4 linked regions of the Homo sapiens genome follow. The protein of the gene in region 4 purifies or fractionates together with the protein of the main gene of each other region. This does not show direct contact. Each region holds a gene or a part of one and is shown on either strand. Other genes may lie near its edges.

Evidence for each region. The genes of interacting proteins can lie anywhere in the genome.
Region 1: the proteins of RPAP2 (region 4) and PFDN2 purify together in Homo sapiens (co-immunoprecipitation; 3 studies listed by BioGRID and IntAct, with this or other methods). This does not show direct contact.
Region 2: the proteins of RPAP2 (region 4) and POLR3B purify together in Homo sapiens (affinity purification with mass spectrometry; 2 studies listed by BioGRID). This does not show direct contact.
Region 3: the proteins of RPAP2 (region 4) and POLR2B purify together in Homo sapiens (affinity purification with mass spectrometry; 3 studies listed by BioGRID and IntAct, with this or other methods). This does not show direct contact.

The regions. Positions count from the first base shown.
Region 1 is NC_000001.11:161,111,538-161,115,037, forward strand, and holds part of PFDN2 (prefoldin subunit 2), read right to left. Parts: intron 1-3,500. UniProt on the Homo sapiens protein: Binds specifically to cytosolic chaperonin (c-CPN) and transfers target proteins to it. Binds to nascent polypeptide chain and promotes folding in an environment in which there are many competing pathways for nonnative proteins.
Region 2 is NC_000012.12:106,360,748-106,364,247, forward strand, and holds part of POLR3B (DNA-directed RNA polymerase III subunit RPC2), read left to right. Parts: intron 1-3,122; coding exon 3,123-3,155; intron 3,156-3,500. UniProt on the Homo sapiens protein: Catalytic core component of RNA polymerase III (Pol III), a DNA-dependent RNA polymerase which synthesizes small non-coding RNAs using the four ribonucleoside triphosphates as substrates.
Region 3 is NC_000004.12:56,992,396-56,995,895, reverse strand, and holds part of POLR2B (DNA-directed RNA polymerase II subunit RPB2), read right to left. Parts: intron 1,822-3,500; exon of another isoform or gene 1,726-1,821; intron 1,493-1,725; coding exon 1,380-1,492; intron 1,250-1,379; coding exon 1,030-1,249; intron 646-1,029; coding exon 487-645; intron 1-486. UniProt on the Homo sapiens protein: Catalytic core component of RNA polymerase II (Pol II), a DNA-dependent RNA polymerase which synthesizes mRNA precursors and many functional non-coding RNAs using the four ribonucleoside triphosphates as substrates.
Region 4 is NC_000001.11:92,305,355-92,309,344, forward strand, and holds part of RPAP2 (putative RNA polymerase II subunit B1 CTD phosphatase RPAP2), read left to right. Parts: intron 1-1,833; coding exon 1,834-1,922; intron 1,923-3,990.

The DNA of each region.
Region 1 (3,500 bases), about 69 Mb from region 4:
ATGTCTCCAGACACTGCCAGATGTCTCCTAGGAAAAGATAATGCCAGTTGAGAATCACTGCTACAGGGTAACAATGAGAACTAACTGAGATAATAGGTCAAGTGCCCGATACAATGTAGATCTTCGACTCCCCTTTGGTTTCCAGGTCCCTTCAGTTCTCCTTCCTATCTCAAGCCTCCTTCTTTCTCCTTTCTGAAAGTTCTTCCTCTTTCACTCCCACAATGGCCACAGGATCTAAGATTCTATTCATAGCACTTCTTCATTACCTACATTATTTTTGAAATTATTTTTTATTGATTCATAATCATATTTTCATGGTATTGTGATAATTTGATATATTCATATAATCAAATCAGGGTAACCTATACTATTTCAAGTGGCATTCTTAGCTACTTCTATAGTTCCAGCAATTGCCTTTATTCTACTTGCCTGCAAAACCAGGCCTTTTCAGAAATTCTAGTCCCACATTTACAAGTTAGAGGAAGGAGCTTTTTTGTGCCTGACAGAAATGGCTTAACGTCAGACCATGACAAGTTACTTCTTTTCTGAATGTTTCTTCACCAATAAAATACAGATTAATACCTGTCTCACAGAATGCATAAGTATTAATTACTTCTTTTCTGATGTTTCTTCACCAATAAAATACAGATAATACCTGCCTCACAGAATGTTGTAAGGATTAAGTAATTACATCAAGAACTTAGGACAATATCTATCATATAACAAGTTTTCAATAAATAGTAGCTGCTATTATTACAGATCATCTCCACCTAAATGTCCCATGGATATCTTAAACTCATGTTGTTCAAAGCTGAAGTGATCTTATCTCTTCTATTTCTGCTACTGACATCACTCTAGGCCTCCTGGTAGGAAACCTTAGTTTCATCTTTTGTTTTGTTTTTAAAGATGGGGTCTCCCTATGCTGCTCAGACTGGTGAAAAGTGGTTATTCACAGGCACAATTATAGCACACTATAGCTTCAAACTCCCAGACTCAAGTGATCCTCCTGTCTCAGCTTCCTGAGTAGCTGGGACTACAGGCACTTGCCACCATACCCAGGTTCATCTTTGAACATACCATAATCCCATGAACTGCCAAATGTATTGCACTTAGTTTAGCAATTTCTCTTAGGCTCACTGACATAACCCTAGTTCAGATGTTCATTACATTCTTATCTGAATTACTGCAATAGTCTTCTAAATGATCCTATTTTTAGACTCCCCAAACCTACCCTACACACTGCTAATTTAATCTTCCTAACACTTAGATGACATAGAAAAATGTTCAACATATACTATTAGGCTTAAAAAACAGATTACAAACCAGTACATACTGTAGTATAATCCTAATTTTATAAAATATGTAAAAAAAAAAAAAAGCTCCCCCTTCCATCCACACATATATACACAAAAAGACAAAGGAGGGGGGAAAAAATCTCTCAAAGGATATACTCCTAAATGGCAAGAAAAGTTATCTCTGGATAGTTGGATTATGGGCAATTTATTTCCTGGTTTGAACTTTTTCCTTTGTTTTCTGCAGTTCCGACAATAAATGTATTATTTTATATAAGAGTTAAACAATTAATAATATAACATATATCCTTCTGTGACTTCCTCACTGCTTATGTTAAAAAGTCATAAATTCTTTGGCATGCACTCAAAGACCTCTATGGCCTTATTCAACTACTCTCCTCTTATCATATTCCCTACTTTCTATTCCCACTGCTACCTGTTCAAATCCATCCACTCCTTCAGGGTTCTGCTCAAATACCTCTAACATAATCATGGCATAAGTGAAAAAAATACCTGATTCTTAAGTCCCTCATTTAAAAATCCTGCTCTTCCAGTTACTGACCTTGGGCAAGTTAACTAAAGCCTCTGAAATTAAAATGTCCTCACCTATAAATGGAGGACAACACAACCTACTTCAAATGGCAGTAATTGAATAACAGAAGGTAGGCCTGAGCGGTGGCTCAGCTCATGCCTGTAATCCTAGCACTTTGGGAAGCCAAGGCAGGTGGACTGCTTGAGCCCAAGAGTTCAAGACCAGCCTGGGCAACATGGCAAAACTCCATCTCTACAAGAAATACAAAAATTAGCTGGGCAGGGTGGCACACGCATGTAGTCCCAGTAACTTGGGAGGCTGAGGTAGAAGGATCACCTGAGCCTTGGGAGGTTGAGGCTGCAGTGAGCCGTGATCGCACCACTGCACTCCAGCCTGGGCAACAGAATGAGACCCTGTCTCAGTCAGTAACAGAAGGTAAAACAAGTGTCTAACACAATGTGTTATTTGCTTCCATCTTGTTTGTAAGGGACATATGTGGCTCAAATTTGCAGCAGTGATAAATCTTGTAATGTTTTACCCAGTGTTCTCTCCAGAATAAACAAAGGCAAGAGAATGTTAATCAAGGAACAGCCTCAAAACTCACTTATCACACTTCCTCAGTTTCCTGAGGGAAGTTTGAGGGGTTCTCTTTAGCTCCCCTAAAACAGTGGTTCCACTCTTGTTCTACTTCTTTTTTCACTTTCTGTACAAACTATGGAAAGTGATCATTTTTATCCATAACCACGGCTTTATCATCCATAAACTCAATTCTCAAATCTGTATCTCCAACTCAGATTTCTTACTGTATCTCAAGATTTAAAAATCAAAGTGTCTACTGAATGTTTAACCTGGGTGTCCCACAAGAAACCTAAACTCAAAATCCTAAAATAAACTTACATTTCCCCCAAAATTGTCTGTCTTCCTACATTCCTTATGGCACCATTATCCACCAAAGACAGAAACCTGAGAGACATCTTATATTCCTCTTTTACCCCCTTTTCTCCATATTCAAGTTCTGTAATCCACCTCAAACATTAAGTCCCACCTGCATCCCAAACATGCCAGGCAGTTTCACGCCTTAGTGTTTTGGAACACATTTATTCCCTCTACCTAGAAAATCTTCCACTTCCTTCTTTGCTTGACTAACTTCTCTCATCCTTTAGAATTGAGCTGAAGGATTTTTCTCCTCTAGAAAACAAAAGCTAACTAGCATTTACTAAACACACACTATATTCTAATCACTGTGCAAAACACTTCGCATGCATTGTCTTGCCTAATACTCTAAATTCAGTGATGAGGTAGGTATTGTTATGTTTCTACAGATGGGGGAGGCCAAGATGTAACTCATGGGAGGTCATATATAAATAGTAAATAGTAGAAATGAAATTCAAACTTAGGTCTGACCCTAGTGCATAAGAATGCTCTTAGCCACCCTACTATACCACAGCTTCCCTTATCCAGCCCCTACCCCCACAATCCTACAACCTCGTGATTAGTTAGGGGTCTCTCCTCTGCTGCCATAATGAAGGGATTGTGCAGCACACTATAAATCTTTATTGTTTGGTTTGTCTTTTCTCAAATGAGTCTGAGTAAAGCAATTTGAAGACAAAGTCTGTTTCATGTACAATAGTCTCTCATTATCCAGAGTTATCCAATGTCTGAAAATAAATGGAAAA
Region 2 (3,500 bases), on a different chromosome or scaffold from region 4:
TGTTACTGAGTACTTACCTGGTGGTGTATTATTCACAGGGTTTATACAAGTTCAAAAAATGTGTTTTCTGCCTCCCAGTGTGTTATAGGCTTATAGAGAGAGACGTGTAAGCAAGTGGAATAACATGCAATAGGTACTGTGATACAAGTAGGCGAGGGGTATTTTGGTATTACAAATGGTAGCTAGGATGTGATGCCTGAACTGAGTTTGCCAGATGTGGATGAAGTGTGGTGGTGCGGAAGCATTCCAGATAGAAGGAGGAGGCGTAGGCACAAGTACAGCTGCAAGCACAGCATATGATGTATGCCTCGCTGTGGAGTTAAGACATGGTGAAGAGGGTGGGGAGGCACTGAAGAGTTGTAGAGAATGAGGTGCTCAGCTGTGCACATGAGGACATGTACACTGGCTTTAGTGCTGAGCATTGAAAGGGACGAGCAGGAAGAGTAGTAAGGAAGTATTGCCGCAGACCAGCTGAAAGATTATGAGGGCCTCAACTGGCACAGGAGCAGAGGATAAATGCGAGGAAGGTTAAAAGGAGGTCGACTCAGTAGAATTTTTGTTTTCCTGTTGATTAAGAAGAGTCAGAAAGTTAGGACTCCCGGGTATCTAATTTGGGATTGACTGGGATAAATGGTGATATTCATTGAGATTGAGAATGGAGCTGGGGGAAGATTTAATTTTGGACATACTGATCTTAAGTAGCCTCTGAGGCTGTAAGGTATCACTGCCCAGTCAATAGTTGGAGGGGACAGGCCCATACCCAGTAGCTTACTGCAACAGTGATATTCACTCACTCATTTATTTATTCAGTATTTATTGGAGTCTTTTATGTGCCAGGCACTGTGGTAACAGGATAGACAGGGTCACTGCCCTTGAAAGAGCCCACATTTGGAACTGGGGGGCTGTGGGATGAGATGGGGGAAGCTAAACAACACTTTCAAACAGTGTTGTTTGAAATCCTCCATTCCCAGCCCTACTTGAGAAAAGACATCGCCAGGGATAGAACTTTGAAGAACACCAAAATTTGCAGGGTGGCAGAGAAAAAGAGGTGTGACAAGGCCCGGCCGGAGGAAGGAAAGACATAAGAGAATGATACCACAGAGTGTTATAAGACAGTGATCGGCATGGCCAAATACTGTGGAAAGGGAATGTGAGGGGGCATCAAGGGAGGTCTTTTGAAGTAGCAGCCTTGGTGACCTCTGTCGAGCTCTTTCACTGGCAGGTAGGTCAGAGTCCTGACTATAACGGAATGAAGGAGTGGGAAGTGAGGAACAGAGAAGCTAAATATGGAGTAATTTGGGAGAGATCGTAAGCTGAAGGGCAGGGAAGAAAGTAGTCAGAGGAGCTGCTGAGTCAAGAAAGTTTTAAATTTTTTTTTTAATGGGAGGATTTGAATACTCGTTTTAAATAGAACAGGTTGAATATCAAGGACTGAACTGGGGCAAGGTTTCCAGTCTTCAGGAGAAGGTTGGCAGGATTGTGTCTGTGGCGGAAGGGTTAGCCTTAGACCAAGGAATGGATGGTCCTTCCTTTGAAGTGGGAGGAAACGAGTATAAGAAGGGGTGTAGAGAGAGGAATTTGAAGATGTGGGAGTATTAGCTCATAGGGCTGCCGTAACAAAGTAACCACAAACTAGGTGGCTTAAACAACAGAAATTTGTTTTCTCATAGTTCTGGAAGTTAGAAGTCTGAGATCAGGGTGACAACAGAGCTGGCTCCTTCTGAGGGCTATGAGAGAGGATCTGCTCTGGGCCGTCCCCTACTACAGGTGTTTGCTGGCAATCTTTGGCATCCCTTGGCTTGCAGAAGCTTCACTGAGACCTCTACCTTCATCTTCACATGGCATTGTCCCTGTGTGCATCTCTATGTCCAATTTCTCCTTTTTTATAAGGACACCAGTTGTATTGGATTAGGGCTCACCTTAATGACTCATTTTACTTAATCACCTTTGTCAAGACCCCATCTTCAAAAACAGTCACATTCTGAGATACTGGGGATTAGGACTTTAGCATATGAATTTTGAGAGGGACACAATTCAACCTATATCATTGTCATTCTTCTATTTTTAAATTTAGGTGTAATTTATATAATAAAATGTATGGATACTAGATATTCAGTTACATTGGTTTTATAGTTATGTGCTCTATGTGGACATTGCATCACCCCAGAAAGTTCCCTTATGACCCTTTTCAGTCTATCCCCCCAAGCACCTTTTGATTTCCGTCATCATAGATTAGCTTTGCCTGCCTCTCTTGTTTTTGACTATACCCAGGGGTCTGCCACCTTCCCTGGCCACTCCTCGGTCTCCTTTGCTGGAGCTGCCTCCTGCTCCTCCTCTCTGATTGTTGGATTATTCTTGGTTGGTCTCACTTTGTGGAACTCTTCTCCATCTACATTCCATAGGTGATCTCATCCATCACGTGCCTTTAATTGCCATCCACTTGTTAATCTCTTCCTAGTTTATATCTCCAGGCCACTCCATTCCCGAATTCAAGACTCATTTGTTGCCTCCTTGACATTTCCACCTGAATGTCTAATGGAGATCTCAAGCTTAACACACCCAAACCAAATTTCTAGTAGCCCCTCCACACCTAAACCTGCTATTCCTACAATGTTCCTCGCCTCCATCAATTTTAACTCTATCCCTCTAGTTGCTCAGGCAATGTAGGAAGCAATCACCATATGTGTCATCCTTCTGTAGCCCTGAGATGAGCTCTGACCAGACAGTAGTTGAGAGAGAATGGGAGGGAGAAAGAACTCCCTTTGGGTCTTGAGACCCAGCTCTCCCACCAGACTCTCTGAGCCTTATTTTCCTTTTCTCAAACTGGCAAACTTCACTTAGGAAGTGTCATGAGAATAAAATAAAGGATTGAAAAGTGCTTAAAATCTTGAGTCATCAGGAAGAGATTAAGTTATATTCTGTTTAGGAAACCTGTAGTGTATGTATGTATGTGTATACATATTTATATGCATATGCACACATGTGATTTCCATAAAAATGTTTAAAAATTATTCTTTTTGTTTTGATTTACTTTCCTTTGCTTATTTTGGAACATTAAAATAACTTATGAAAGTACTGTTGCTGGTACAGAGTTCTGATATTCTTCTTGTTTTGGCTCACAGGAAAAATGGAGGCTGCTTCCAGCATTTTTAAAGGTAATTGTTTCACATTTAATAATAATTGGTTATTTTTCAGATGAAAAAGTCAAGAAATAAGCCATTTTTTAAAGATTAAATTTTTGTCATCAACATTTTTTGATTTTGTATAGCTGTGTTTGGAAATACAAGGAATTATAAGGTAAAATCCCTGCCTGAAAGGTGCTGGTTTGGAGAGTGGTAGTCTAATTTTAGAGAGAAGTAGTAGTACATGCACAGTAGCATGGCACATGATTAAAAACCAAAGTGCTATCAGCAAAAGAGCAATGGTCAGAGAGGGCCACCCAAATGAAGTGAGACATAAACCACATCTTAAGAGAAGAAGGTTTAAGCCTGAAAGCTGGG
Region 3 (3,500 bases), on a different chromosome or scaffold from region 4:
TTTCCACCTTGCTCGTACTCTCTATGGCTCTTTTTGCTTACTCTCTCTGAAGAAGCAAGCTGCTATGCTGCTGTCAGCTGCTATACGCAGAGGCCCACATGGCAAGGAACAAAGAAAGGCTTCCAGCCAACAGCGAGCAAAGACCTGGGACTCAGTCCAACAGCCAATGAAGAACTAAATCCTGCAGACAACCATGGGAATGACTCTTGAGATTACGGCAGCCCAGGGAAACATCTGATTGCAGCCTTGTGAGAGTTGCTTGGCCAAAAGACCCAGCTAAGCTACACCCAGATTCCTGACTCACAGAAGCCGTGAGATGATAAATGTTGCTAGAGGAGTAATTTGTTACACAGCGATAGGTAAACAATACGATATATAACAACAATATGCTCCAGAAAAGCTTCTATGGACAAAGAAGGCAGTCTAGTAAATTTTAAAACAAAGCACAAAGGAATAAACCCAAATAGCATCATATCCAGTCCATACCTGTCCTCCTCTTGCCAGCATGCTAACCCATATAGTACTGGTGGGTCGGGAAGAATTCTCAAGACATGATCTACACTCTCCTGTGTAGGCATATTTAGAATCCTTTTTGGCAAACACATAAACTGTGTTTGTTGCCATTTTCTCTTGGGCAATCAGAACCTATTTGGACAATAAGAAAGTTACAGCCATAAAATCCAAAACATCACTGAAGAGAAAAGAGAGTAAAATCTGCATCTTAATTTAATCTGACCATATAGGCTCACTGAAATATTTAATTCTTCAACTTTACAAACTCCATTTTGCATAAATGCTTCATAGAAATACATAAACTCCAAAACTGACCAAATTCCCAGTGCATGTTATATACAGCTAAATAAAGCTTTGGTTTATATAAGTTTAGCTGTCATACCCTAAACAAGTCAACTGTCAGTGCCAGGTTATCCTGCAGGAAAATCTTTCTTTCTTTTTTTTTTTTTTTTCATTTCAACTTTAAACTAAATTTTAACTACCATTTTGTAATTTTTTAAAATAATGTTACTATACCTTTTCTGATCCATTAATAATGAAATAGCCACCAGGATCCAAAGGGCATTCATTTAACTCACAAAGATCACGATCTGTCAAGCCATTCAAAAGGCAGTAAGTTGACCGCAACATAATTGGAATTTTTCCTATAAAAGTTTTCTGATGCTGAGTCTGAAGTTGTTCTTCACCTTCTTTAATGACTGTTTTTGTTATATCAACATAAAGCGGAGCAGAATACCTTTGAAAATAAAAGTAGATCACAGTTAAGCAATAGGGTATCTGTTAAAACAAATCCTCAAGTGGTTAAAATTACATTTTCAAAATTCTATTTCAGTATCTACTGCTGACAAGGAAAAATTCTTTCTTACGTGAGATTCCTTAATCTAGCTTCATTGGGCATCATTGGTGAAGGAGCACCATCTCTTTCCCAATGGGTAGGCTTGGAAAGATAAATTTGTTCAAACTTCAGCAAATATCGTGGCTGAAATTAAACAAAAAAACATGAAAAGGGTAAATAATTTTTTCCATAAAAGTTTTAGTGATTCCATTTTAATTGACATTAACATTTTAAGTACAAGCAACTCTACAAACTGGCAAAATTAATCCATTTTACTGAAATGGGGACTTCCCAAAGTCAATATCCATATTGCATAGACGTTAAGTTTTAAACCAAATCACTTTCTTTTTTCCTCTTTTCTTAAAAATTTTTTTTCACATTAGACAGGTAATGTGCTAACAAGGTTTGTAACAAGGTTTAAGGAAGGCACATCTCACACCCAATCATCACACACTTATCAACTACAGAAGGATCTGCTAATTGCTTTCTTAAGGCAGAAGACAAAAAGAGACTTAATATACTAAAAGTAAAGACTGTACACATCATGTGCTCTGAGTTTATATGAAACAGTTAAAATGGATTTACATTAATGATCTACATAGTTTCTTGTGCCCTCTCCTTGGTAAGCATCATCAAAAATACAAAGTGACCAGAGAACAAAGATAACAAATCCAGACAACTAGAACTATGCTCTAATCTAATCAATAGAACATTTTAAAAAATAAACCTCTCTTCAGTTAAATATACAAATTAATCTGTCAAAGGAGTAGAGTTAACAAAAGAAAAAGATTTTTTTATTTTAAAAAACACACAAAATATCCTAATCATTCTATATAAAGGGCTGAGAATTTCCAACTCTGGCTGGAATATAGCTTAGTTCATAGAAAAAAAAAGAAATTTTTCAATTAAACATTCACTTGCTGCCTAATAAAACAAGATCCATGAGGACAACTTTCTAGAGATAAATGGATAGTGTACTTTTCTCTAAATCAAGTCTCAGAGAAGAAAACAGGAGTAAGCAGACGTTTTACTAATGATTAATTATTGACACTCAAGTCTCCCAAGCTGGGCTGGATAAAGGGCAAAGAGAACGGTGGTGATAACGAACCAAAGGGAAGCCAATCCTCTACTCCTTATCTGTGCCATCATCTAGTCTAGGTCATTATTATCTTAATCATAGGCTATTCTAAGATTTTTATCTCCTCCAGTCTCTTTTGTTTTGTTTCATTTTGTTTTGTTTTGTTTGAGACAGGGTCTCACTCTGTCACCCAGGATGGAGTGCAGTGGCGTGATCTCGGCTCACTGCAGCCTCCACCTCCTGGGTTCAAGTGATTCTCCTGCCTCAGCCTCCCAAGTAGCTGGGACTACAGGCGCACCACCAGGCCCGGCTAATTTTTGTATTTTTTGGTAGAGATGGGGCTTCACCAAGCTGGCCAGGATGGTCTCAAACTCCTGGCCTCAAGAGATCTGCCTGCCTAGGCCTCCCAAAGTGCTGGGATTACAGGCATGAGCCACCACATCTGGCCTCCTCTAGCCTCTTTCTATTCCAAGCAAGCATCACTTTCCAAAGTAACTTTTCTAAAATAATGCTTTATGTATATTCTTTGACAGTCTCTCAGTAATTCCTCATAACATCCAATGACATTCAAAGCTTTCAACAATCGGGTTCCATCTTATCTTCCTAATGCCTATTAAAAATAGAGAAGCCCTGTAATCCCAGCACTTTGGGAGGCCAAGGAGGGCAGATCATGAGGTCAGGAGATCGAGACCATCCTGGCTAATACGGCAAAACCCTGTCTCTACTAAAAATACAAAAAAATAATAGCCGGGCGTGGTGGCAGGCGCCTGTAGTCCCAGCAACTCAAAAAGCTGAGGCAGGAGAATGGCGTGAACCCGGAAGGCGGAGCCTGCAGTGAGCCGAGATCGCGCCACTGCATTCCAGCCTGGCCAACAGGGCGAGACTCTGTCTCAAAAAAAAAAAAAAAAATAGATAAGCCAAAATCACATACTGATCATTGTGGTCCCCAGCCTAAATACACCAAGTATTTTCTTTTCTTTTTTTTTTTTTTTTTTTTTTTTTTTTGAGACAGAGTCTCGACCTCTCGCCCAGGCTGGAGTGCAGTGGCGTGATCTCAGCTCGCTGCAACCTCCG
Region 4 (3,990 bases):
CCCGGGAGGCGGAGCTTGCAGTGAGCCGAGATCGCACCACTGCATTCCAGCCGGGGCAACAGAGTGAGGCTCCGTCTCAAAAAAAAAAAAAAAAAAAGACAATATGGGAAGATATAAACTTGGGGTAGAGAGACTTCATAAAATAAGATGGAAAATTATAGGCCAAAGAGGAGAAACTGATAAACATTTCTATATTAAAATGTAAAACTTTTGTTCATCAGAAGTTTCAAAAAAAAAATGAAAAGAGAAGCCACAAAGCAGAATGTTAACTGACCATAGAATCATATCTAGAATATATGATCTATAAGAAAAAGACAGACAAACTAATAGAAAAATTTACACAAGGAACTTGAATGGCTAATAAACATATGAAAAGATGCTAAATATTATCAGTAATCAGAGAAATAGCAAATAAAAACACACTGAGTTTTGTTTTCACAGCCCACAAAATTGCGAATGTTAGGAAATCTTTTTGCAACTAGTGGGAATGAAAATTGGTACAGCCTTTTTGAGAAATGGCTTGGCATTTGTCTGGTGAAGTCTTTGCACATTCTCTATAATTAAGCCTTTCTATTCCTTGGTATAAACCCTAAAAAAATTCTTACACATGTACACCAGCATGTATGTATAAAAATGTTTATAGCTGGATAAACAATGTCGTATATACACACAATGGAATATTAGCCTTTAAAAAAAGGAAGGAAATTCTGACACATGCTACAAGGTGGATGAACCTTGAAGATAATATGCTAAGTGAAATAAGCCAGCACAAAAGGACAAATACTGTATGCTTTCACTTATATGAGGTACCTAGAGAAGTCAGATTAACAGAGACAGAAAGTAGAATGATCATCAAGAGAGGTGGGAATGGGAAGTTAGTGTATAGGGTTTCAGTTCTGTAAGATAAAAAGAGTTCTAAAGATGAATGGTGGTAATAGTTGCACAACAGTGTGAAGGTACTTAATACCACTGTGCTATATACTTAAAAATGCTTATGATGATAAATTTTAGATTATGTATATTTTACCACAATTGTGAACATTTTTTAATTGTAAAAAAAAGTTTATAGTAACATTGTAGTGATAGCAAAAAAATTAGAAACAACTCAATTGTCTATAAATGGTAAAGTGTAATACTCTAACAATGGAATGTAGTACACAGTGAAAATTAATAAGCTACAACTACTTGAATGAATCTTAAAAACATAATTTTAAACAAAAGAAGTGGCTAGGTACGGTGGCTCACACCTATAATTCCAGCACTTTGGGAGGCCAGGGAGAGAAGATAGAGACCAGCCTGGGCAACAAATAGAGACCCCATCTCTACAAAAAAATAAAATAGCCAGGTGTGGTGGCACGCCTGTAGTCCAAGCTACTCAGGAGGCTGAAACCAGAGGATTACTTGAGCCCAGGAGTTTGAGGCTACAGTGAGTGAGACCCTGTCCCTAAAAAAAATAAAATTTAATAAGTGAATGAAGTAAGATAAGAATGTATAACAATATTATTCCATTCAAAAAAATGTTTAAAAATAGGCAAAACTGAATATTTTTTAATAGGGATATGTACACAGGTGCTAAAACTGAAAGGAAATGAGGGAATGATTAACACCAAATTTATGGTAGTGGTTACTTCTGGGGAATGCGGAGGGTGATGCAGTTGGGAAGGGGCACATAGAGGCCTTCAAAGGTTCAGTATCTTATTTCTTACCTTGGGTGGTAGATCTGTAGGTTTCCATTTTATTCTTTGAACGATACATTTATGTTTTATACTCTCAACTGTATGTAGGTAATGTTTCATGATAAGAAAAAAACTAGATTTATAATGTTCTTTTCAGTCTTTTTGCAGCAATTTTTGTTATCAAGCATCTAAGTTTTTTGAAGCACAAATTCCCAAAACTCCAGTATGGGTTCGAGAAGAAGAGAGGTAATTTAAGTCATTGTGTATATACATTTGTTCATATATTCTAATAATTTGTTTCTGCTTTTTGAGATTAGCTGAGAGTAAGTCTAGTTTTCTGTAAAAAGTTACCATTTTATATACTTTATGGGGAAATGGTTATATTTTAAGCATAGCTATTAAGGATTTTACACTTAAAATCAGAAAATGCATACATACAAATGTTATTTGTTTGTTGTTTTAGCTTTAATTGCAAAATCAGAACTTTAACTCCAGTGTCCTGTGATGCTAGTTATGTCTGTGAATCCTGTTAATATAATAATCCTGGAGGAAGAATGTTAAATTTTTTCAGAAGTTACTGGGTCTTAGGATCCAGGTGAACTCTGCTATGAGAAAGGTTAGAAAGTTCAGGTTCATTTAATCTTTATAAAAATCAGTACACTATTTTATCAATTTAAAGACACAATTAAAAAGTAATTTTTTTTTTTGTAAAAAGAGTTTATGGGCAATGCTGGAGTTTAGCCTCTTGGGAAATGATTTAAATACTGGCAATGTTTTACTAGATGCTAAAGTCAAGAAAATTTTATTATTGAGGGTGAAATGGCATGATAATATAAAGGTAACAAGTTATCCTTATGGTAATTAAACTGTATTGCCTAGAAATTCCAATGAAATGCTTAATGAGATAATGCCCAAAATAAATTCATGTTTGAAAGAGTGTATTATAGCAACACAAGGCAGTGTTACTTGTGGTAAGGTAGGACCTATGCTAAATAAACTAATGACCTAAACATAATGAGATGCAGGTTAGCTAAAAAGCTCTGGCTCAAAAAAAAAAAAGCAAACCTTGAAGTCTTTTCTGATGCGTAAGGCGATGTAACACCACTCTCAATTCAAATAACATCAATTATGCTGACAACAGCACCTGTGATGGCAGACACCTCTGCCTGCCGATCCAATCCTGTGTGGTTTAGGATATGGAAAACTTAACACTGTGTGGCCCTTGATAATTGAGTTAAACATAATTAAGACTAAATTGTTCATCATTTCACCACCAGTCTGCCAGCTTCCTTGTTGGGAAAATAAAAGACTCTGGCATTGTTCGACATGACTGGGAAGCTAAGAGTACTTTTTTACTTATCCTTTTTCTCCTTTCTTAATATTTCTGTCACTAGAGCTGCCCAGTACTTCCCCAGTCCTCTGAGAGCAACATGTTTTATTCCCCACTGAAACCAGTGTTTCCTCAAGTTATCCTTAACTTTGCTTCCAAAGATATTTTCTCTACATCTTAAATTTAACCCTTTGTGCCACCCTCATATCTACCTCAACTGCTTCAAAACCATTTACCAAATTACCTTTCCTGCCATCTCTGTTTTCTTCAAGCATAGGTATTGGTCCTTCCTTTAGCTAATTTAAAACAAATCTTCCAGCCTGGTGTAGTGGCTCATGCCTATAATCCCAACACTTTGAGAAGCCAAGGTGGGTGGATCACTTGAGTTTAGGAATTTGAGACCAGCTTAGCCAATATGGTGATACCCTGTCTCTACTAAAAATACAAAAATTAATTGGGTATGGTGGCGGGCACCTGTAATCCCAGCTACTCAGGAGGCTGAGGCAGGAGAATCACTTGAACCTGGGAGGCGGAGGTTGCAGTGAGCCAAGATCGTGCTGCTGAACTCTAGCCTGGGCCACAGAGTGAGATTCTGTCTCAAAAATTAAATAAATAAATAAAATGAAGTAAAACAGGTCTTCCTGTAACCTTTTCCTAAAATCTCACCATCCTCTATTCAGAATGCTCACTGTTTCCCAAAACTTGAAGCCCTTTTACTTTATATTTGCAGTTCTTGAAATTCTACCTTAGCTATATACCCTTCACTACCTCACTAAAAAAGAAAGATGAAAATGTCCTTTGTGCCGGGCGTGGTGGCTTACACCTGTAATCCCAGCACTTTGGGAGGCCGAGGGGGGCAGATCACAAGGTCAAGAGATCGAGACCATCCTGGCCAACATGGTGAAACCCTGTCTCTACTAAAAATACAAAAATTAGCTGGACGTGGTGACACATGCCTGTAGTCTCAGCTACTCAGGAGGCTGA